5 linked regions of the Homo sapiens genome follow. The protein of the gene in region 5 purifies or fractionates together with the protein of the main gene of each other region. This does not show direct contact. Each region holds a gene or a part of one and is shown on either strand. Other genes may lie near its edges. The genes, in order: MAT1A, PYGB, GALM, SEMA4B and GALK1.

Region 1 (4,474 bases), on a different chromosome or scaffold from region 5:
ACCTTTAAAGTCATGCTTCTCTCTGTGCATCTTGATTACAGGTGTATAGCTAGGCAGGATGACCTGGAAGTGGGTCTTTTTGCCATGGCGTGAGGTCATCACATCTCTCACAGTGATTTCAGAGAATTAGGGAAAGAGCTAACAGAGACCCAAAATGAATTTTTCTTTAAAAATTAGAATTGCCTGAACATCTAATGCCAGAGACCAACGTGGAGACTCTAAGAATTGGGGCCAGAGCCCTGCCCAGGAAGCCAGCATGGACAAAGGGCCCCTGAAGCTCCTGCAGAATGTGATCGCATACAGGCCCTCCGCACCTGGTGTCTGCTCTCTGGGTCCTTTGCTGCCCTCCAGGCTGTGCCGCTGCCTGGCCTGCTCAGTCTCAGATGTTGGAATCTGCTTCAAAGTTCTGCTAGGGCCTGTGCCCCTTCCCTGGGTGGTGGCCCCACACTATGTAGCACTGGTGCTAACCTGGACCAGCCTCGCCTGCTGTCAGCACCAGTTCTGGACTGAGTCATCTTGCTCCATGTCTATGATTGCAAGTAGGTTTAGTGGAAGCACAGGAGTCCTCAGCCTAGTGGCTGCTTACCCTGTGATCTCACACAGACTGTTTACCCCTCTAGGCCTCCATTTCCTCGTCTGCATAAGTACATAAATGATTAAGACAACACAAGAGACTATCACCAGTGCCTGGCAGCGAGCATGTCCCCAAAGGAGGGCAGCCCCCTTTATTCAGTGCATCTTTCTCTTCCAAAGCCTTTGGCAGCGCCAAGAAGGCAAGGCCTAAAACAAGCCCAATCAACAACAGATGGGCATGTGCTGGGCCCACTGGGCATAGTCGCCTGTTGGCCATCCTTATGCCAGAGTCTTTGACCCCTGGAACCTGACAGACAAGTGTAGGAGTGTTTTCCTCCTGGTAGTATTGATGCTCCCATCGGGCTGAAAGGCACGGGTTTGACTCAGCACTGGGGTCTCTATCAGCAGAGAGCAACAGGGATTTCAGACCCGGAGGCCTGCCCTCACCCTTGGCTGAGTCATCGTAGCCGATGTGCTTGATGGTGTCCCTCACCACCCGCTGGTAGTCCACCATGGCCATTGAGGTGATCTCACCACACAGCAGCACCATGCCGGTCTTGCACACTGTCTCTGAAAGGGAGCGGGGAGCGAGGAGAGTTAGCAGCCAAGTGCCAGCAAAGGGAAGCTCACATTCCCAGACCTCTCACAGTGCAGACAGAAAAGACACAGGAGGGGCCTTACGAGGAATGGATTCCAGAAGGAAAATAGAAACGCCAATAAAAAGAAAAAATCCCAGCACCAAGCACTGAGCATCTTCCAATGCTGTCTTGGAAAGAGTCAGTCATAAGCTGTGATCCTGGACAACTTATTTAACCCCTCTAAGTCTCTGTTCCCTCATCTATTTAATAAAGCTATTTATAAGACTGCTATGTGGATTAAAGGGAGATGATGGTTGTATGTAGCTGTCATAAAGAAGGTAGTCCACACATGTGACCCCCCATCCCCCACATTGCTAAACCTCCACTGCAGGCTTTAGGGAGTGGGATCTGGACCAAAAAAAATCAAAGCAGGCCAACCTTCTCTCCAGATATTTACAAAGATATAAGGGTAGAATCTACCTTCAGAGGGGCATGAGTCCCTGTAGTATTCAATACAGGGCTGAGGATGCAACCAGAGAGGGAAGGATGGGTCTGTGCAGTGGACAAGACATGACAATGACAGTAAGGAGAGCAAGGCTCTGGTCTTCACACTGGGGCACCCTACCCCATGGCCTTGGCCAGGCCCTGATGCAGAGGGTACCGTGATCCTGTCTCTAAAATGAACAGGCTGGACCTGATCACCCTGGGGCCCCTCCAGACTCCAGAGTCCATGACTCTGCCACTGTGCCACAGGCTTCAAGCCAGGCAAAGGTTTTCCTGCCAAACAACTTATCCCACAAATAAAGGTGAAGATCTTCAGCCTACATGAGTCTTCAGACACAATAAATTATGCAGATGGGAGCCAGGGCTTCAGTACTTTAGTTTAACATTAATGTCTCTTAGGAAAGCCATTGATTTATTGAAAAACAATTGGTGAAGATGTTGCCTTCCTGTTGCTATTAAATGGGGGACACTAATTATTTTAAAACCTAAATCATACCACAAACTAGGAAAGAAAACAAGAGAAGAAGCCAGGTATCTGTGCAGCCAACAAAGGCTCCTACAATGAGGATGCAGCTTATAACCATCTAGGCAGCTACCTGTGTTTCAAGCTCTTGCATCCCGTCTGGAAGATTCACCTAAGAACTTTGAAAGACCTCCTTGTTCCCAATGAGATCAAGCATCAGAAAGGCCATGTGCTGGTCCAACCCTCTGCTATTTATGGTTGCTATGACATTTAACGTTAGATTCTTGCTAAAAATAATTATCTATTTGTTTCATGGTTAGAAATGTTTTTCCTCCCTGTTACTACACAGGGGAGGTCTCATAATTGAGAAATCTACTGCAGAGCAGAGGACATGGATTTTGGAACTGAGGAGTATGGCTCGTTTGTCTTATACCCATGATTAATTTCTCAGTCTAGCCCACTTAGGTCTCCAGCAGGGAGGGATCGGGTGTTTCTTACCACAGGCCACCTTGGCATTGGGGTCTTGCTTGAGATGGGCATCCAGCACTGCATCACTGATCTGGTCACAGATCTTATCTGGACAAGAGCAAATATGGGTCAGAATCACAAAAATATTCGGGATAACAAATTGAAATCTTAAAATAATTAGATATCGACTTTTCAGTTTACATATCAACTTATCTACCAGAGGGAAAACACTTTTTTTAAGTATAAGAAATTAGAAATACTTTGAAATTTTTATTTATTTCCATTCCTGCCTAATTTTGGATGACACGTATTATATAAAGTCATAGAATGCCCTAAAAAAGAAATACCTTTTTTTTTTTTTTGAGATGGAGTGTCAGTCTATCACCCAGGCTGGAGTGCAGTGGTGTGATCTCGGTTCACTGCAATCTCCACCTCCCGGGTTCAAGCAATCCTCCCACCTCAGCCTCCCAGGTAGCTAGGATTACAGGCTTGTGCTACCACGCCTGGCTAATTTGTTTTGTATTTTCAGTAGAGATGGCGTTTCACCATGTTGGCCAGGCTGGTCTTGAACTCCTGGTCTCAAGTGATCCGCCCACCTCAGCCTCTGAAAGTGCTGGGATTACAGGTGTTAGCCACTGCGCCCGGTCAAAATCAGCTCTTCTAGGAGTCTAACGCAACTCACACATAAACAAACACACACGCATTCTTCTAAATAAAAAATCTCTCATTCCTCATCATGTTCCCTTTAATTCTAACATCTACAAAAGTCCTGAAAATGAACTTAAAAATAGTTAAGAAGTCAATTTTACCTCTTTGCCAAGAGGTAAAATCAGACGGCTCAAACAGCTGCATTGCATGGCAGGTTCCACAAGATGCAATGCACCGTATATAAAACACCACACCCAAGTACATGACTCCACCCATAAGAATTCTACAAGATAACCCCTATACATCATTGTTGTTTTGCAGAATACTTCCATAAGCAGCTCTCAGATCTCCCACATGGTCACTCAGCCTCCCGAAAGCCAGGTGTCCTTAGAGCTGGGCTTGACCTCTTCAATTACTGTAGGACTGACAAGGGTTCAACATGAGCTGGAATTTGATTTTATTCTTCCACTATTTGCCTTAAAGACTCTGCAGGGTCTAAAATGTAAAGCACTAAATGGTGCTTGTAGGAAAATCTACTCTTGCTTTGGGGTTATGCAAACTGTCAATATCTACAAATTAAGAAATAAAAGTGATCTCTATCTACATATATTATAGCTCATTCAGTGTTAAAAATACCCACAGTCTGCTCTTAATAGAGTAATATGTTTTTGTTAAGAATCCAGATCCAGAATCAAGCAGTTTGGCTCTCAAAAGCAGATGTTAAATTCTGTAATTAAAGATATTCATTAATTCCTTAATCTTTCCTTTAGAAACTACTGCTAAACATATGTTTGAGGTTGTGTTTTGTTTGTTTGTTTGTTTGTTTAATCTAGCCTCCTGCCAGTGGCAGACCCTGGTAGTACCTTTAGGTTTGTCTGAGCCCTTAGCCTCTACACACTTCTACCACTGAAGGCCTCTCGCTGATAAAATATCCTAAAATAAATACATGCTGGCCACCTTAGGCTTACCCATCAGAGTTCCTAGAAGCTTGCTGACTGATCATTGATTGTGAATGTCTCTGCCTGTGCAGACACAGCTCACAGGCTCCCACTCTGCCTAGGGAAATCCAACAGGAGAAGGAACAAAGCTGGAGTCCAGCAGGGGCTTCCAGATAGCACCACACACAAGACAATGCCCAAGGAGGTTGTTTCTGAATTGTTTTTGTTTTTGTTTTGGCTTTCAAAATTTTTATCAATATCACTTAGTAGGCTTAAGATAGCCAATAGTTGTTTTTTTGGAA
Region 2 (3,688 bases), on a different chromosome or scaffold from region 5:
CTGGGAGGGCACCCCACAGACCTGGGGAGGCAGAGACTCCCAGGGCACCACCTTGGTGCCGCCCGCCCAGATGCATGGTGGGTGTGGGGATGAGGACAACCTGGCAGCACCAACCCCTGCACGACCAGGTCTGAGGCCAAGGAGGCCCATGGCACTCCAGCATCCCAGTTCTTGGGTCTTCAGGGTAGCACAGAGCCCTAGGCTCATTTCTCCTGATTTCTTAATCTGCAACTGTACAATTGATGGGCGATGCTTTGGTCCCCAGGGCCAGGAGTGGGAGACAAAAGTTGCAGGTGCAAAGGGACCAGCACAAGTCACACCAGAAAGGTGTGTGTGTTTCTTATCCCCAGATAGCATGTTTAGTAATGGCTGGATTTGATTGATTGATAGAATTTTTAGAAAATAGCTAGCTTGGCCAGGAACAGTGGTTCACAACTGTAATCTCAGCACTTTCGGAGGCTGAGGCGGGCGGATCACCTGAGGTCAGGAGTTTGAGACCAGCCTGGCCAACATGGCAAAACTAAAAATACACAAATTAGCCGGGTGTGGTGGTGGGCGCCTGTAATGCCAGCTACTCGGGAGGCTGAGGCAGGAGAATTGCTTGAACCCAGGAGGCGGAGGTTGCAGCGAGCCAAGACCGTGCCACTGCACTCCAGCCTGGGCAACAAAAGCAAAACTCCATCTCAAAAACAAAAAAACAAAACTAGCCGTTCAGGCACACATGACCCCGGGTTCCACACCTAGTGGAGATGCAAACTTTTCTGCCCTCAATCCCAGAATGATGGGGTGTAATTCAGCCCCGGCTCTAGTTTCAGACGGGGGACCTGTGGCCCACTTGCAGGTCTCATCCCTGCACTGGCACCACCCTGGGCCTCAGGCCTGTGTTCTCTGCTTCCCACAGTCTCATACCACCACCTGCAGTTAGTTAGTTAGTTAGTGAAACACAGACCCCATGTCAGCCAACCACAGCCACAAAGGTTTAATCAGTTTTTATCTCACAAGGCAGTAACAATGAGGGGCACAGTGGTGGTCAGGGTGGTGGCCCCAGTGGCCAACTAGGGGAGTATGGCCTCCTCCACAGAGCCGCTGCCTGGGGAAGATGCTGTCAGGGCACGACCACAGCCCAGCACTTGCCCCACTCAATAAAAGGCTGTAGTGCTCTGGTGGGCTGTGCACCGTGCGCAGATCCTCCTGGTGGGCACTGGAGGCCAGGGAGAAAAAGAGCCTCCCCGCAGCCCAGATCCAGCATGCAAGGTGCTAGATTTCTCGGCAATTCCACAGGGAAGGACAGTAGCCTGTTCCCTGCCCTCTCTCTTGGGCAATGGGAGGCAGGTTGCCAGCCTTGGGGAGGGGCAAGGCTGTGAGGGGCTCACCCCCACCTCCCAGTGCCAGGCCTGCTGTCCAAGCAGAGCACAAATGGGTTCCTCCGGGACCCCTGGTCCTTTTTCCAGACGAGGCTGTGGCACTGGTGGAAAGGGAGGGAGAATGGAGCCTGGCCCTTGTGTGTACAACAGGAAATGCACCTCAGGACACAGCAGGAGTCAGCGGGAGGGCACAGACCTGCCCCCTGCCAGGCAGAAAATGGGCCTCCTCAAGCACAAAAGTGACCAAGTACAATTTTCAGTTGCTAAAACAAGAAAAGGCTTCAGCTAGTTTCATTTCCATGTGTAGTTATTTTCTCTTTTGAATAAGCAAAACCAAGCTAAGCTGTGTCAGCCAACTTCATCCTGACCAAGGCCTCTGAGACAGCAGACACAAGCACCCACTCCAGTGTCCCCCTCAGTCATCCCGGGTTCCAAGCACCCACACAATGCCCATTGGATGGCTACAAAGGGAAAGCCCCATCTGGGTCCATGACCCATATACCAGGTGCAGAGCCAGGACAGAGGGCAGGGGGCAGGGGGCTGTGAAGGCGATGCCTAGAGGATCCGACCCCTCCCGGCATGGCCAGGAGGCAGGGCTGGGCAGGATGACTGGGGCTACATGGGGCTTGGCCCTTCCCTGTGGCTGGCAGCCCAGATGCTGCAGTAACACTCATTCCCAGGCTTCACTATGGCCACTGGCCCAGACCCCAGAATCCAGAGGCTCAACACTAAAGACATCGGCTAATACATAGCAAGATGTGTGCAAAGTTCTGGGGGAGCCCAGCAGGTGGCTCCACCTGACTCCCACTCTGGGTGGGGCAGGTGCTGAAGCTGCAGGGCTGGCCACGACCCTTTGTACTGTCAACTCTGGCTTCCTTTACAAGAAACTAGGAGCACTTCTAGCACATTCCTTCCTTACCCTGCTCTCTCAAAACCACCCTGACCCCCATGGCCCCTCCTGGAAACATGGTACTCAGAAAAGCAGGGACCACCAGTGGCTGGCAAAGTGTTTGGGGAAAAAAGGAGGTGCAAAGTCAGCAAGAAAACAAATGCCCGCTGGTCCCGCCAAGGCAGGGTGTGCCTAGTCCCGGGGGATGTTGGGGGGCGGGATCTGCAGGTCGGAGGGCTCCACACCCCAGATCTCCCGTGCATACTCCGTGATGGTCCGGTCACTGGAGAACTTGCCCGAGCAGGCGATGTTCCTGATGACCTTCTTGGTCCACTCCTTGGGGTTCTGCAGGGAAGGAGATGAAATTAGTCTCTGGCGTCACAGGGCTTGGGGCTGCTAAAAACATGGGATTCCAGAACTTTAGGACTGTTTCCAAATGAGCTCCGAGCCTTGGGGCCATCCGCTGGAAGAGGAGGACATTACAATCACTTGTTCGTTGAAAAGGGGACCCCACGGACCAGGAAAGCTACCGCATTCTAGATCTAGGGAGCAAGGAGCTGGAGAGAAGGTCCCAGCCTCGAAAATTCCTGCTAGGGCATGGCCCCCAGGACGACGATAGGGATAGCACCAGGTAAGAACTGCCCAGGCAGATCCAGTGCCAGGGGACATGCCCAGGCAGTCTCCTTCCACCAGGGAGCCTCACAGCTGCCACAAGCTGCAGGTCACACCAGGCCAGCCTTTCCTCGAGGCCAGCCCTGACTGAGGGAAGAGAAGGTCCCTCCCAGGGCCCTGCCCGTCACTCAGTTTCCAGGCCGCACATTCCTTTCTTGGCCATTAGGAGCTGTTTTTTTCAACGGAGGGAGTGACATTGACAGTGACAGCTTCCCTAAAGGCAGGCACAGCCGACTGATGACAGATCAGAATCACAAACCCCTCTGGCCCAGGCCAAGAATCTACTCAGCTTGGGAAATAAACAATCTGACCCAACACGTCTACATGGACCCACCCAGCTGCTCCCCTAGCCTCTGGACCCAGGAGCCTCACCCGGTACAGCTGGTCCACCTGTGCCTGGCACTGCATGTAGGCTTCATAGTCTGCAAACACCTTGAACCTGGAATGGGAGAAAGGAGGCTGGGCCAGGGCAGCAGGGAGCCCTGCCCACACTGTCCCGAGGGGAGAGTCCCAGGGCAGGAGGCCAGGCACCATCCACCTGGTCCTGTCTGGAGCGAAGGGGCCCACCCACGCAGCTGGTCAGAGCCAGGCTGCACCAGGCCCATTTGGCCACAGGGCTTCTCTGTGAGCAACACTTATGTCCTGGGACAATATTTTAGAAAAACCTTATTTCAACCCAACACTCCTTTAAATAAACTGGCATTTAAAACGTGTCTTCCACACGCAGGGCAGTTAGAGCTGCACATGGGAGAGGCCTCCTGGG
Region 3 (5,231 bases), on a different chromosome or scaffold from region 5:
GGCTGCATGCACCGGTAATCAGAACAGAACACAACAGGACAGGGATTTTCACACTGCTTTTCTATAAAATGTCTGGAATCTATAGATAACATAACTGGTTAGGTCAGGGGTCGATCTTTAACTACCAGGCCCATGGCGTAGTGCCGGGCTGTCTGCCTGTGGATTTCGTTTCTGCCTTTTAGTTTTTACTTCTTTCTTTGGAGGCAGAAATTGGGCATAAGGCAATATGAGGGGTGGTCTCCTCTCTTACTGTAACTAAAAATTTATATAATTTTCTTCTTTAGAATTCTATGAAAGAAAAAAATCCCATTTTCCCAGGGAGAAACTGAACCATTCTGACCTCTGGTTATGGCTGTCATCCAAACAGTTTATATAACCTGTCTGGGAAATTGAAGATTGTTCATATCTAACTCTGCAGTTACAAAAGGACCATGTCTCATGGAATTATCCACGCTCAGATCTTCCGCATGGCTCAAAACCATTTTTGGGATATGGTAATGTCAAGATAACCCCTTATTCTGTCAAGTATTTAAAAAAATTTTTTTTAAATTTAAATTTATTTATTTATTTATTTATTTTTATTTATTTTAGAGACAGGGTCTCACTATGTTGCTCAGGCTGGTCTCAAACTCCTGGCCTCAAGCGATCCTCCCACTTTGGACTCCTAGGATTACAGGTGTGAGCCACCATGCCGGCCTCTGTCAAGTCTTATTACTTTAAATTATTTACCTCTGTTTGTTTATATATACTTACATACTCTGATGGTTTAAAAGAATATGCAGTGAAAATTAAGTCTCCTTCCCATCCTCTGCACCCTGGGCACCCAGGATCCTTTCTTAACAACCACTGTTACCAGTTTATTGTTAACATAGGTTTTAATGCACTAGAAATGTAGTATCAGAGCACCATCAAAATAGTAACAGAGTGTTGTATATCTCCCCTGTAAGAGTCACAGCCCACACCTCTACAACAAACACAGGGTAACAAGAGAAAAGCAAAACAGCTGGGCACAGTGGCTCATGTCTGTAATCCCAGCACTTTGGGAGGCTGAAGTGGGAGGATTGCTTGAGGCCAGTAGTTCGAGGCTGCAAGTCAGCTATAATTGCACTACTCCACTCTAGCCTGGGTGACAGAGCGAGACTCCACCTCTAAAAAATAAAAAATACATAAAAAAGCCAAACAAATTTATTTGATTATAGTTTTATGTGACACGGGAGCTTTCAGAATGAAGACCGACAGATACAAGGAAAACAATCCATTTCTATGCTTAGGTCCAATGGAACATGGACAGCCATGTAGAAATATGATTGGACCAAAAGGGTAAGATCTGTTGCTAATAGAGTGAGTGGGGAAACTCGGCAAGGCCTGTGTTCAGATTTTTCTTGGCCTCCCCATGCAGCATTTCTTCCTCCGGGTATGGGGCAGGACCCCTCTGGAATGAGGGTCTTAATTTCTTTATGGTCAGCTGTTACACAGAAAGGCAGAGGGAAAGGTTAGAGTATATTTTTATTTTTTTGAGATGGGGTCTCACTCTGTCGCCCAGGCTGGAGTGCAGTGGCGCAATCTCGGCTCACTGCAACTTCCGCCTCCCAGATTCAAGTGATTCTCCTGCCTCAGCCTCCCAAGTAGCTGGGATTACAGGTGCCCGCCAGCAGCCTGGCCAACATGGTGAAACCCCATCTCTACCAAAAACACAAAAAAATTAGCCGGGCATGGTGGTGTTCAACAGAAAGCTGAGTTTTGTTTTTTTCCCTGAGGAATTGAAATTTGCTCTCTGTTTTTTAAGATAGAGTTTCGCTCTGCCACCCACGCTGGAGTGCAGTGGCGCAATCTTGGCTCACTGCAACCTCCGCCTCCTGGGTTCAAGCTATTCTCCTGCCTCAGCCTCCTGACTAGCTGGGATTACAGGCACGTGCCACCATGCTCAGCTAATTTTTTTGTATTTTTAGTAGAGACAGGGTTTCACCATGCTGGCCAGGCTGGTCTGGCCAACATGTAACCATGAGCCAAGTTACATATCTTACGTATCGGAAGAACCAAACAGACAGAATGACACACCAAAAGGAAAACCTCAAACCTCCTCTCCAGCAGAATTTGTCTACGCCCCAACCACTGAGCAGAGAGTATTAACTCTCAGTTTCCCTTTGCCAGCTTTATTTCACACCTCATTTTCTGTCTAGTTACACCATGGTGCTAAGAGAGCATGATGTACATTTTCCTTTGCTGCAATCAAGCTGCAATTGTCATTCTTTATTTATGCAATTACTGAGTTAAAGTCTATCTCCCCAGCCAAACCGCAAGAGTGGGGACCTTGTCTGTCCTGTTTAATGAGGTCATCGGATTAATAGAGTTGTCAAATGTATTAATTAATGCCTGATCCTAATTGCCCATGGATTCTGGGATAAAAGTCCATCCTAGTTGGTAGGAGACCTGATCTCTGAGAAGACACTGAGTTGGTCTTCTCTATTTTGTTCCTAAATGGTTATTGGGTAGCTGGTGTACTAGGCAACCACTGAGCTTAGTGGAGCATTTCTGAGACAACCAGGCCTCAAAGAGAATCTGATCAAGGAAGAAGGAAGTAGAAGAGGCAAGTATTTGAATTTCCTTCTTCAGAAGGGAAGAAGTGGGAGCCACACCCCCTCTTGCCTGCTCTTTCCTCTCCAGCCTTCTCCAGGTATCAGGCAGTTCAAAGATTAGGCAGTTCAAAGATCGCTCCAGGATCGCTGAAGTGTATCATACCATCAGCTGACCTTTTACGTTAACTGGGGCAAAGCCTGAACGGATAACCAGAGGCCAACTGCCATAGTTTATTTATTACAGTTTTTCCCAAATGCTGGATGGCCACACGGCCCTCTATGATGCATGCGCTTGCAAGTCAGACGGTCCCAAGCTAGGCGACTTTCCCCCTTGGTCCCTCGCATTGCAAGTGGCCCGCTAGATCCGGGAGGTATGTAGCGTGGGCCTGGGGCCTGCTCGCAGCCCAGGGCACAGTTCAACCCACCTTCCAACTCGGCGAAGCCAAGCACCACGTCCGAGGCTCTCCCCTGCCTGTCTTTGACCTCTAGGGCTGTGATCGTGCAGCCCCAGGAGATGATGTCCACTCTCAAGAGGTCTGACTGCAGCTGGAACTTCTCCACTGTCCCTCCTCCCGAGGGCAGCTCTCCAAACACGGCCCTGGTCACCGAAGCCATAGGGAAAGTTTGGCGTGTGCAGCCACTGCCCGCTCTTCAAACTCCAGCGCTCGCTAAGCTAGAGGCGACCCAAGTTTACAGGAGAAGGGGCGTGACTCGGCTCAGACTCCTCCCTTTCCCTGCCTGGATTTAGGGAGTGACCGTTCCTGCAAAAAATAGCCCCTGGGGCCTTTCTAAATCAATCATTTGCCTGAGGGTAACAAGAGGGGCAAACTTTGCAGCCACACTTGTACTTTTTTTCCTTGGCTCGTCCTGGTTGCATTGCATGTTGGGAATGGTAGTTTTTGGGAGGTGAAATTGCATTTTGGGGCTTGTAGTCTTTCTAAACTCGAATCCTGGGTTGACGGGGTTCTACCCCCATCTCCCCACACCTCAACATGTAATGAGCTGGTCATTAATGTCGGTGGCTATCAGACGAAGAATGGGAAAATACAGATAGCAGACTTACAGTGAGACCGATCTTGGGAAAAAATTAGATTTTAACTCTTTGATACAGGGGGTAAGAAGTACAGCAGTAGTTGGCCGGCTCGGTGGCTCACGCCTGTAATCCCAGCACTTTGGGAGACCGAGGCAGGCGGATCACGAGGTCAGGAGATTGAGACCTTCCTGGCTAACACGGTGAAACCCCGCCTCTACTAAAAATACAAAAAAAAAAAAAAAAAAAAAAAAAAAAAAAAATTAGCTGGGAGTGGTGGTGGGGGCCTGTAGTCCCAGCTACTCGGGAGGCTGAGGCAGGAGAATGGCGTGAACCCGTGAGGCGGAGCTTGCAGTGAGCCGAGATCACGCCACTGCACTCCAGCCTGAGTGACAGAGCGAGACTCCGTCTCAAAACAACAACAACAACAACAACAAAGTACAGTAGTAGCTTAGAAATGAGGTAAATCATCTCAGGCTTCTCTGCACACAGACTTACTGAAGATTCACTCTTTTTGTCCCACGGATGAAGTCCTGGACATGGTTCTGTTAGAGCCACTGCCCAGAAGGCTCTCCTGACGGCCAAAGCTGTGCCAGCCTCGAGGAGCTTGGACCAGACAGGGTCAGGTAGATGGATTAGGCCCTCGGTGTGCGGAGGTGATTAGAGACAGCCTCAGACTTATTTTACTTCAAGGGACTGGAAAGGGACCTCTGGTGTCTTCTGGCTCCTGAAGTCCACAGTTCCTTTAAGAAGGGATTCAGGGAACAAGTATTGATTGAGGTCCTTGTAAATGCCAGGTACTGAACCTTTGTTATCTCCTTTTCTACAAGTAGGATGGAGTCTTCAGGTATGTACAGTTGGAGAGGAAAGACACTAAGGTTATTAAATAATTGTCTTGCTTGATTGTGTCTCAGAATTTGCTGAGGACATTTAAAATGCATATTCCCAGTCCCCACCTCTGGAATTTCTAATTCTGGAAGTCTAGGGTGAAACTCAGGAATCTGCATTTTTCATGTTCCCAAGTTATTCTTCTGCAGATTATCTGGGACCAGATTTAGAGAAATATTGCTCTAAGGCTTGATGAGTAATCTGAATTTTTTTCCCCAAAAAAATAGGCTCTGATGGCAGAAGGATTAAGATAAAGCTATTAAGGGCCTTAATGAGATAACATACAGGCACCTATGTACTTCCTTGCTAAGTCTGGCAACTTTAGAGGAGTACTGAGCCTAGGAAGTGGGAGGATGCTGGGAGCCTAAAGACAAGTTTTACTCAAGCCATCTGCATAATCATCTATCTTTTCTTGATACTGCTCTTGGCTTGGTTCCTGGGTACTTCAGAGGGTATCCAACTAGACTGGGGTGAGTGCAGAAATGAAATGCATCTTTGATTAGGAAATTATGAGAATTGGGATTATGTGCCTGGAATCAGATGCTAATAAAACATAATAACTATCTCTCAGCTTCTTCTGTCTGTAATTTAAGGTATATTTAGCATTCTTGCCATAAAGCCTCAATTCTCCATCATGAAGCAGAAGAATTCTGATAGCAAAGGAAAAATAAAAAAGCTTGCAACAGGCTTCAGTGAAGCTCAACGTATAATAATAAAAAGACCCAAACAAGTCAAAT
Region 4 (4,474 bases), on a different chromosome or scaffold from region 5:
CCAGCTTCTTGGGAGGCTGAGGCAGGAGAATCGCTTGAACCTGAGAGGTGTAGGTTGCACCATTGCACTCCAGCCTGGACAACAAGAGAGAAACTCCGTCTCAAAAAAAAAAAAAAAAAAGGGCTGAGCTGCTGGGCGTGGTGGCTCACGCCTGTAATCCCAGCACTTTGGGAGGCCGAGGCGGGTGGATCACATGAGGTCAGGAGTTCAAGACCAGCCTGACCAACATGGAGAAACCCCGTCTCTACTAAAAATACTTTGCCGGGCGTGGTGACATATGCCTGTAATCCCAGCTACTCAGGAGGCTGAGGCAGGAGAATCGCTTGAACCTGGGAGGCGGAGGTTGCGGTGAGCCAAGATTGTGCTATTGCACTCCAGCCTGGGCAACAACAGCAAAACACCATCTCAAAAAAAAAAAAAAAAAAAAAGGCTGAGCTTCCCCCAAATGGCTGATATGTGTTCCTCCTTATGGACATTGAGGATGGAGTAGCTTCATTTCCCATTTTTCTTTGGCCACCAGGAGGCCCAGCACTAAAGGCTCAGCCCTTCTCTACCAGCTGTGCGAAGACTCATTGACCTACTCGTGAATTTTTACTTCCTTGCTGATGGAGATGTTTTTCTTCAGATTTGGGTTTTCTCTGCTCCTGATTTTAATGTTTATATTTCACTACTTTCTTTTCTTCATGTCTCCCCACCCTTTATGGAACCAGGCTGGGGGTATGTAAAAACACTCCACAGGTAAACACACATGAAGTCATCTTCACAGCTGCTTGATTGGGCGTGTTGCACTTTTTGCTTCCTCAGCTTCGTGAGACTGTTTGTGTGGTCATAACCCACTGGTCCGCTACAACGTGCCTGAGGGTGGTCAGGGTGCTGCTCTTTGCTTGTTTTTGTGTTCTCATCAGCTGCTTAGAATTTTAAAAATAATTTCTCTCCAAACCCTTTAGTTACCCAAAGCATAAACAGTACCCTGGTGGGTAAGTGTGTGTGTGTTTCTTTTTTTTTTTCTTTGATTTATATATTTCACATTATATAAGGATAACCTGCTTATTAGAGAATCTAAAAATGATAACAAGTAAAAAAGAAAAGAAAGCTACCTGTAATTCTACCAGGGAGCCCATGTTTTAGTGTTTTGTGATACATCCTTCTGGATTTTTTTCCTATGCTTATATTTTTCCCACAAAAAATAGAATTTGACCATACATACTAAATATAACCTGAATTTTCACTTCATGGTAGATAATTCGTGTCTTTCCTTGTTGTTATTCTGCAAAAACAAAAGCTACTTAAAATGTGTACCAAGGTCTGGGCGCAGTGGCCCACACCTGTAATCCCAGCACTTCGGGAGGCTGAGGCAGGCGGATTGCTTGAAGCCAGGAGTTCGAGACCAGCCTGGCCAACATGGCAAAACCCTGTCTCTACTAAAAATACAAAAGTTAGCCGGGCATGGTGGCACATGCCTGTAATCCCAGCTACTCGGGAGGCTGAGGCAGAAGAATTGCTCGAACCTGGAAGGCGGAGGTTGCGGTGAGCCGAGATCATGCCAGTGCACTCCTGCCTGGGCAACAGAGTGAGACTCAGTCTCAAAAAATAAATAAAATTTGTATCAAGGATACATGCACGTATATATATATTTTTAAGTATAGAAGGGCTTATTATAAAAAGCAAAAACGTCTGTCCTCCCTCACCCCAGGCCAATTTAAAAGGGACTTTTAATCATTTAGGGTTCTTAGGGTTCTTGTTCTACCATTATTTCCTCCATTTTTTTTTTTTCTTTTTGAGATGGAGTTTCACTCTTGTTGCCCAGGCTGGAGTGCAATGGTGTGATCTCAGCTCACCGCAACCTCTGCATCCCAGGTTCAAGCGATTCTCCTGCCTCAGCCTCCCGAGTAGCTGGGATTACAGGCATGTGCTACTACGCCTGGCTAATTTTATATTTTTAGTAGAGACGGGATCTCTCCATGTTGGTCAGGCTGGTCTCGAACTCAGGTGATCCACACCAAAGTGCTGGGATTATAGGTGTGAGCCACCACGCCCAGCCCATTTCCTCCATATTTTTAAGTAAAATACTTACACCACTATTTCTTGGCTTATTTGAATTCCTAACTTTCCCTCACTTACATCTCCCTTCCATTCCTCCCCCCAACATATTCTGTCACCGTACTGTATTCACTTCCTTTATTGGTTACCTTTGCAATATAAAACAGTACACTTGACCTGTATTTATTATTCCATTAGCCATTGGCAGCAGCTTGTGACAACCCTGCTACCATATTATGATGTCTGTCTGTCATCAGTTCTGGTTTCTGAGGTCAAAATTGAAAACACTCCCATTCTGTGTAATAACCATCAGTCTCAAAGACCAGTGCTTTTTTGGGAGGCTGACGCGGGCAGATCACTTGAGTTCAGGAGTTTGAGACCAGCCTGGCCAACATGGTGAAACCCCGTCTCTACTAAAAATACAAAAATTAGCTGGGTGTGATGGTGCATGCCTGTAATACCAGCTACTTGGGAGGCCGAGGCAGGAGAATCACTTGAACCTAGGAGGTGGAGGTTGCAGTGAGCCAAGATCATGCCACTGCACTCCAGCCTGGGCAACAGAGCGAGACTTCGTCTCAAAAAAAAAAGAAAAGCCCATGCTCAACATTTGCATTACTCTGTCAATGCAAATAGCATTCACTGCAGGGCCCACTTAACATTTCCTTCTCTTTGGGTCTAATGTCACTCAAAGGAAAGTGTTAAATGTATTTTCCTTTCTTAATATTCTATTATGTGCTCAAAACTCATCACTTTATATTTTAGTTTGCTTGATATTTTGACCATGCCTTTCTTGCCTGTTTTTCTGGAGCTTCTAATACATCATTTTTTTTCCCAGCTGTATAGTATTCAGTTGGATTGAGGCATCATAATTTATTTTGACAAGGTCCCCTCTGGTTGGACGGACTCTTTGGTTTTCAGTTTTTTATTAATGTGAAGGGTGCCGTAGTAAGTATCCTTGTACATACATCTCTGCATCATTTCTTATGTAATGTTTGAGAGTCCAGGAATGCTGCTCGCCCATCAAACCTGATCCCCCTGCCCCCAGCCCCTTGCCATTGCCACCCTTTGCCTTGCTGATTACCTTCCTTTAAACCAGTCCATCTAAAGGTTGGTGTTAAGAGGCTTCCCATGGGAGGGGTGGCCCCAGGTAATACCCATCTTCCTCTCCCCAGGCTCTGAAGAGCGGCCATTCCTCAGATTCGAAGCTGAACACATCTCCAACTACACAGCCCTTCTGCTGAGCAGGGATGGCAGGACCCTGTACGTGGGTGCTCGAGAGGCCCTCTTTGCACTCAGTAGCAACCTCAGCTTCCTGCCAGGCGGGGAGTACCAGGAGGTGAGAGATGTTGCCTGGAGCTGGCTAGGCTGGGCAGAGGACCACAGAGGGAAGATGGACGGGAAGCTTGACCTTCTGGGTCCAAGGATGATGCCTATGGGAGAGGAGGGAGGCTCAGCAAACCCTCCATTTTGTCCACTACCTTCCCCTTTCTCATTCCCCAGCTGCTTTGGGGTGCAGACGCAGAGAAGAAACAGCAGTGCAGCTTCAAGGGCAAGGACCCACAGGTGAGCCCACACCTGGAAGGGAGCTGAGCTGCAGGAGGGATGGAGGGTGGTGGACTTCCATCCAGGCCAGAGGCGGGAGGTGGGAGCAGATACAGCCAGGTATGGTGGGAAGGGCATAAGCTTCTGAGATTACCCGGCCTGGGTTTGAATCCCAGCACTACACTTACATCGCTACGACCTTCGACAAGTAGATTCACCTGTCTAAGCCTTAGTGGGCCCACCTGTAAAATGGGGATAATGATCCGGTCTCACTGGGCTTACAGTGAGGATTCAGGAAGCTAATAGGTGTAAGGCACCTGGCTCATAGATACAAGACCTAACAAGTCAGCTTCCAGCGTGAACAGAGATTGGGTGGGGTGAGAGTTGTGTCCCTCTGCAGATGGTTCCTGATGTAGCACATCTGACAGATTCTGGTGTGGTTTTGGCCAAAGCACAGGATGAAATCTGGTTCAACCCAGGTTCTCCTGGAGGACTCATCATCATCCCTAGAGGCCTCCTGCTCCTGCTCCTAAGTGCAGCAGGTGCTGGGTAAGGTGAGGGCAAACGAGTGCTGGACTTGGGATCAAGACACAGGTTCAAGTCCTGGCTGCCATTCTGTTATTCAGCTAACATTGATGAAGCATGCACTCTGTGTCCATGTACTTTTAGGTACTGGAGATTTAATTGTGAAAAAGCAGGCTTGGCACAGTGGCTCACGCCTGTAATCCCAGCACTTCGGGAGGCTGAGGCAGGTGGATCACAAGGTCTCCACCTCATGGTCTCCTGAGTGTCTCAGGAGTTCGAGACCAGCCAGGCCAACATAGTGAAACTCCGTCTCTACTAAAAATACAAAAAACATTAGCCAGGCATGGTGGCAGGCGCCTGTAGCCCC
Region 5 (3,373 bases):
CAAGGGATCCTCCCAGCTCAGCCTTCCAAGTAGCTGAGATTACAGGTGTGCCACCATGCCCGGCTAATTTTTATCTTTGTAAAGACGGTCTTGCAGTGTTGCCCAGGCTGATCCTGAACTCTGGCCTCAAGTGGTCCTCCTGCCTTGGCCTCCCAAAGTGTTGGGATTATAGGCATGAGCCACTGCGCCCAGCCCATTTGCCGTGTTTTTTTTTTGGACACAGAGTTTCGGTCTTGTCACCCATGCTGGAGTGCAATGGTGCGATCTCAGCTCACTGTAACCTCTGCCTCCCGGGTTCAAGTGATTCTCCTGCCTCAGCCTCCCGAGTAGCTGGGACTACAGGCGCCCGCCACTACGCCTGGCACATTTTTTATAGTTCTAGTAGAGACTGGGGTTTCACCATGTTGGCCAGGCTGGTCTCAAACGCCTGACCTCAGGTGATCCTCCCGCCTCAGCCTTCCAAAGTGCTGGGATTACAGGCGTGAGCCATAGTGCCGGTCTCTTTTTTTTTTTTTTTTAAACTAAACATAATCTCAGAACCCAGAACCCTATCTTATCTTATGCCATGAAAGGCATATCTCGGTGTGGCTCTTTTTTTTTTTTTTTCTTTTTTTTTTGGTGAGGTGGAGGCTTGCCCTGTTGCCCAGGCTGGAGTGCAGTGGCGCAATCTCGGCTCACTGCATCCTCCACCTCCTGGGTTCAAATGATTCTCCTGCCTTAGCTTCCTGAGTAGCTGGGATTACTGGCACCCACCACCACGCCCAGCCAATTTTTATATTTTTAGTAGAGACGGGGTTTCATGTTGGCCAGGCTGGTCTCGAACTCCTGATCTCGTGATCTGCCCGCCTCAGCCTCCCAATGTGCTAGGATTACATGTGTGAGCCACTGCACCTGGCCTCCGTGTGGCTCTTTAAAGCTCCACAATATTTTAGCATTCAGGTGCTCTGTCATTTACTTAACTATTTTCTGATACACCTCACACTGTGATTAACTTTTTTTATTTATCTTTTTTATTATTTATTTATTTATTTATTTGAGACAGAGTCTTGCTCTGTCACCCAGGCTGCAGTGCAGTGGCACGATCTCGGCTCACTGCAACCTCTGCCTCCCAGGTTCAAGTGATTCTCCTGCCTCAGCCTCCTGAGTAGCTAGGATTAGAGGCATGTGCCACCACACCTGGCTAATTTTTGTATTTTTAGTAGAGATGAGGTTTTACCATGTTGGTCGGGCTGGTCGTGAACTCCTGACCTGGTGATCTGCCCACCTCAGCCTCCCAAAGTACTGGGATGACAGGCATGAACCACTGTGCCTGGCCATCTTTTTTATTTTTTAAAGAGATGGGTTCTGCTAAGTTGCCCAGGCTGGACCTGAACTCTTGGGCTCAAGTAATCTTCTCACCTAGTCTCCTGGGTAGCTGCAACCAAAGGCACCCGGTTTATCTGCATTCTCTTTTTTTTCTTTGAGACTGAGTCTTGCTCTGTAGCCCAGGCTGGAGCGCAGTGGCGTGATCTCGGCTCACTGCAACCTCCGTCTTCAGGGTTCAAGCAATTCTCCTGCCTCAGCCTCTGGAGTGGCTGGGACTACAGGCGTGTGCCACCAGAGCGAGTTAATTTTTTTTTTTTTTTGTATTTTTAGTGGACACTGGGTTTCACTATATTGGCCAGGCTGGTCTTGGACTCCTGACCTCAAGTGATCCGCCTGCCTTGGCCTCCCAAAGTGCTGGGATTACAGGCACAGGCGTGAGCCACTACACCTGGCCTATCTGCATTCTCTTAATAGTTTCTTAGAAATGGATTCTTAGGAGTAGGATTACAGAGTCAAGAGACACAAGTATTGTAGGCTGGGTGCGGTGGCTCACGTCTGTGCCTGTAATCCCAGCACTTTAGGAGGCCAAGGTGGGCAGATTCATTGAGCTCAGGAATTCGAGACCAGCCTGGGCAACATGGCAAAACCCCATCTCTAAAGAAATACAAAAATTAGCCAGGTGTGGTGGTGTGTGCCTGTAGTCCTAGCTACTTAGGAGGCTGGGGTGGGAGGATCAATTGAGCCCAGGAGGTTGAGACTGCAGTGAGCTGTGATTGCACCATGGCACTCCAGCCTGGGCCTCAAAGTGAGATCCTGTCTCCAAAACAAAAAAGATACAAGTATCCTTAAGGCTCCTGCTACACATGGCCAGGAAGGTAGTCTATTGGACAGTTTTAAGGTCATTATCAATATTAGCTCATTTAATTCCCTCCAAAACTCTGTAAAGCACATTCTGCTACCATAGTTGTCATATTTTTGATGGGGGAATCTACAGTGAGAGGCAGTGCTGGGATCTGAACCCCATCTGGACAGATTAGCTCCAGGGCCCATGCTCTTGACTGGCTGGCCGTGCTGCCCACACTGAGTTGTTCCTTCCTGGCAGTGTAGGTGTGCCTATCTCAGGGACACTAGACAGCTCCGAGGGACCTCCCTGTCCTTTTCCTTTGTGAACTGTGTCACGTTCTCCAGAGCAGTGCTCAGACCTGCCCTGCCTGCTCTGTGCAGATGCCCTTGGCCAAGGTTTTCACACTGGAACAAGTTGGTCCCTCCTCCCCACCCCAGCCTGTCCTTGCCCCTCCTCCAGGTCTCCTTCTGCATAGGAGCAGCTCACCCTGCCTCCTCCAGAGTCCTGCCCTAGAAGCGCAATCCCTCTCCTTCCATCCCCTGCCTGGCTGCCTGGCTCCTTCCCTCAGCCTCCAAGACATGCTCAGTTTTCTTCCCTCCTAAAACACCACCCACTGTCTCATTTCCATTCATTTCTTTCTTTCTTTCTTTCTTTTTTTTTGAGAGGGAGCCTCACTCTGTCACCCAGGCTGAAGTGCAGTGGCATGATCTCCACTCACTGCAACCTCCGCCTCCCAGGTTCAAGCAATTCTCCTGCCTCAGCCTCCTGAGTAGCTGCGATTACAGGCGCCTGCCACGATGCCCGGCTAACTTTTGTATTTTTAGTAGAGACGGGGTTTCGCCATGTTGGCCAGGCTGGTCTCGAGCTCCTGACCTCAGGCAATCTGCCTGCCTCAGCTTCCCAAAGTGCTGGGATTACAGGTGTGAGCCACCGCGCCCACCCATTCATTTCTCAGTCCTTTGAATCTACTTGCCCCTCCATCCCGCCATGCCACCTACCCTAACAACCTTCCCCCTTAAACCTGCGGGTTTGGCCGGGCGCAGTACACTGAGTCAGTACTGGTACTGACCCAGGTACCCCTCCAGCCTCAGCTCCAGTCAGATGGGACAGCCTGCTGGTCCCTGGCTGCTTCTGCCCCCTCTTCTGGAGCCCCAGCCCTGGAGGCTCCATGTGGCTCAGCAGAACTTCTTCTCCTCCTGCTCTGTGGTGGCCTCTTGAGGGCAG

Evidence for each region.
Region 1: the proteins of GALK1 (region 5) and MAT1A fractionate together in Homo sapiens (co-fractionation; one large-scale study listed by BioGRID). This does not show direct contact.
Region 2: the proteins of GALK1 (region 5) and PYGB fractionate together in Homo sapiens (co-fractionation; one large-scale study listed by BioGRID). This does not show direct contact.
Region 3: the proteins of GALK1 (region 5) and GALM fractionate together in Homo sapiens (co-fractionation; one large-scale study listed by BioGRID). This does not show direct contact.
Region 4: the proteins of GALK1 (region 5) and SEMA4B fractionate together in Homo sapiens (co-fractionation; one large-scale study listed by BioGRID). This does not show direct contact.

Annotation. Positions count from the first base shown.
Region 1 is NC_000010.11:80,282,896-80,287,369, forward strand, and holds part of MAT1A (S-adenosylmethionine synthase), read right to left. Parts: intron 2,695-4,474; coding exon 2,617-2,694; intron 1,144-2,616; coding exon 1,021-1,143; intron 1-1,020. UniProt on the Homo sapiens protein: Catalyzes the formation of S-adenosylmethionine from methionine and ATP. The reaction comprises two steps that are both catalyzed by the same enzyme: formation of S-adenosylmethionine (AdoMet) and triphosphate, and subsequent hydrolysis of the triphosphate.
Region 2 is NC_000020.11:25,295,280-25,298,967, reverse strand, and holds the end of PYGB (glycogen phosphorylase, brain form), read right to left. Parts: intron 3,365-3,688; coding exon 3,298-3,364; intron 2,599-3,297; coding exon 2,446-2,598; 3' UTR 956-2,445; downstream 1-955. UniProt on the Homo sapiens protein: Glycogen phosphorylase that regulates glycogen mobilization. Phosphorylase is an important allosteric enzyme in carbohydrate metabolism. Enzymes from different sources differ in their regulatory mechanisms and in their natural substrates.
Region 3 is NC_000002.12:38,664,122-38,669,352, reverse strand, and holds the start of GALM (galactose mutarotase), read right to left. Parts: upstream 3,240-5,231; 5' UTR 3,192-3,239; coding exon 3,002-3,191; intron 1-3,001. UniProt on the Homo sapiens protein: Mutarotase that catalyzes the interconversion of beta-D-galactose and alpha-D-galactose during galactose metabolism.
Region 4 is NC_000015.10:90,214,227-90,218,700, forward strand, and holds part of SEMA4B (semaphorin-4B isoform 1 precursor), read left to right. Parts: intron 1-710; exon of another isoform or gene 711-738; intron 739-3,212; coding exon 3,213-3,376; intron 3,377-3,540; coding exon 3,541-3,603; intron 3,604-4,474. UniProt on the Homo sapiens protein: Inhibits axonal extension by providing local signals to specify territories inaccessible for growing axons.
Region 5 is NC_000017.11:75,758,864-75,762,236, reverse strand, and holds part of GALK1 (galactokinase), read left to right. Parts: intron 1-3,373. UniProt on the Homo sapiens protein: Catalyzes the transfer of a phosphate from ATP to alpha-D-galactose and participates in the first committed step in the catabolism of galactose.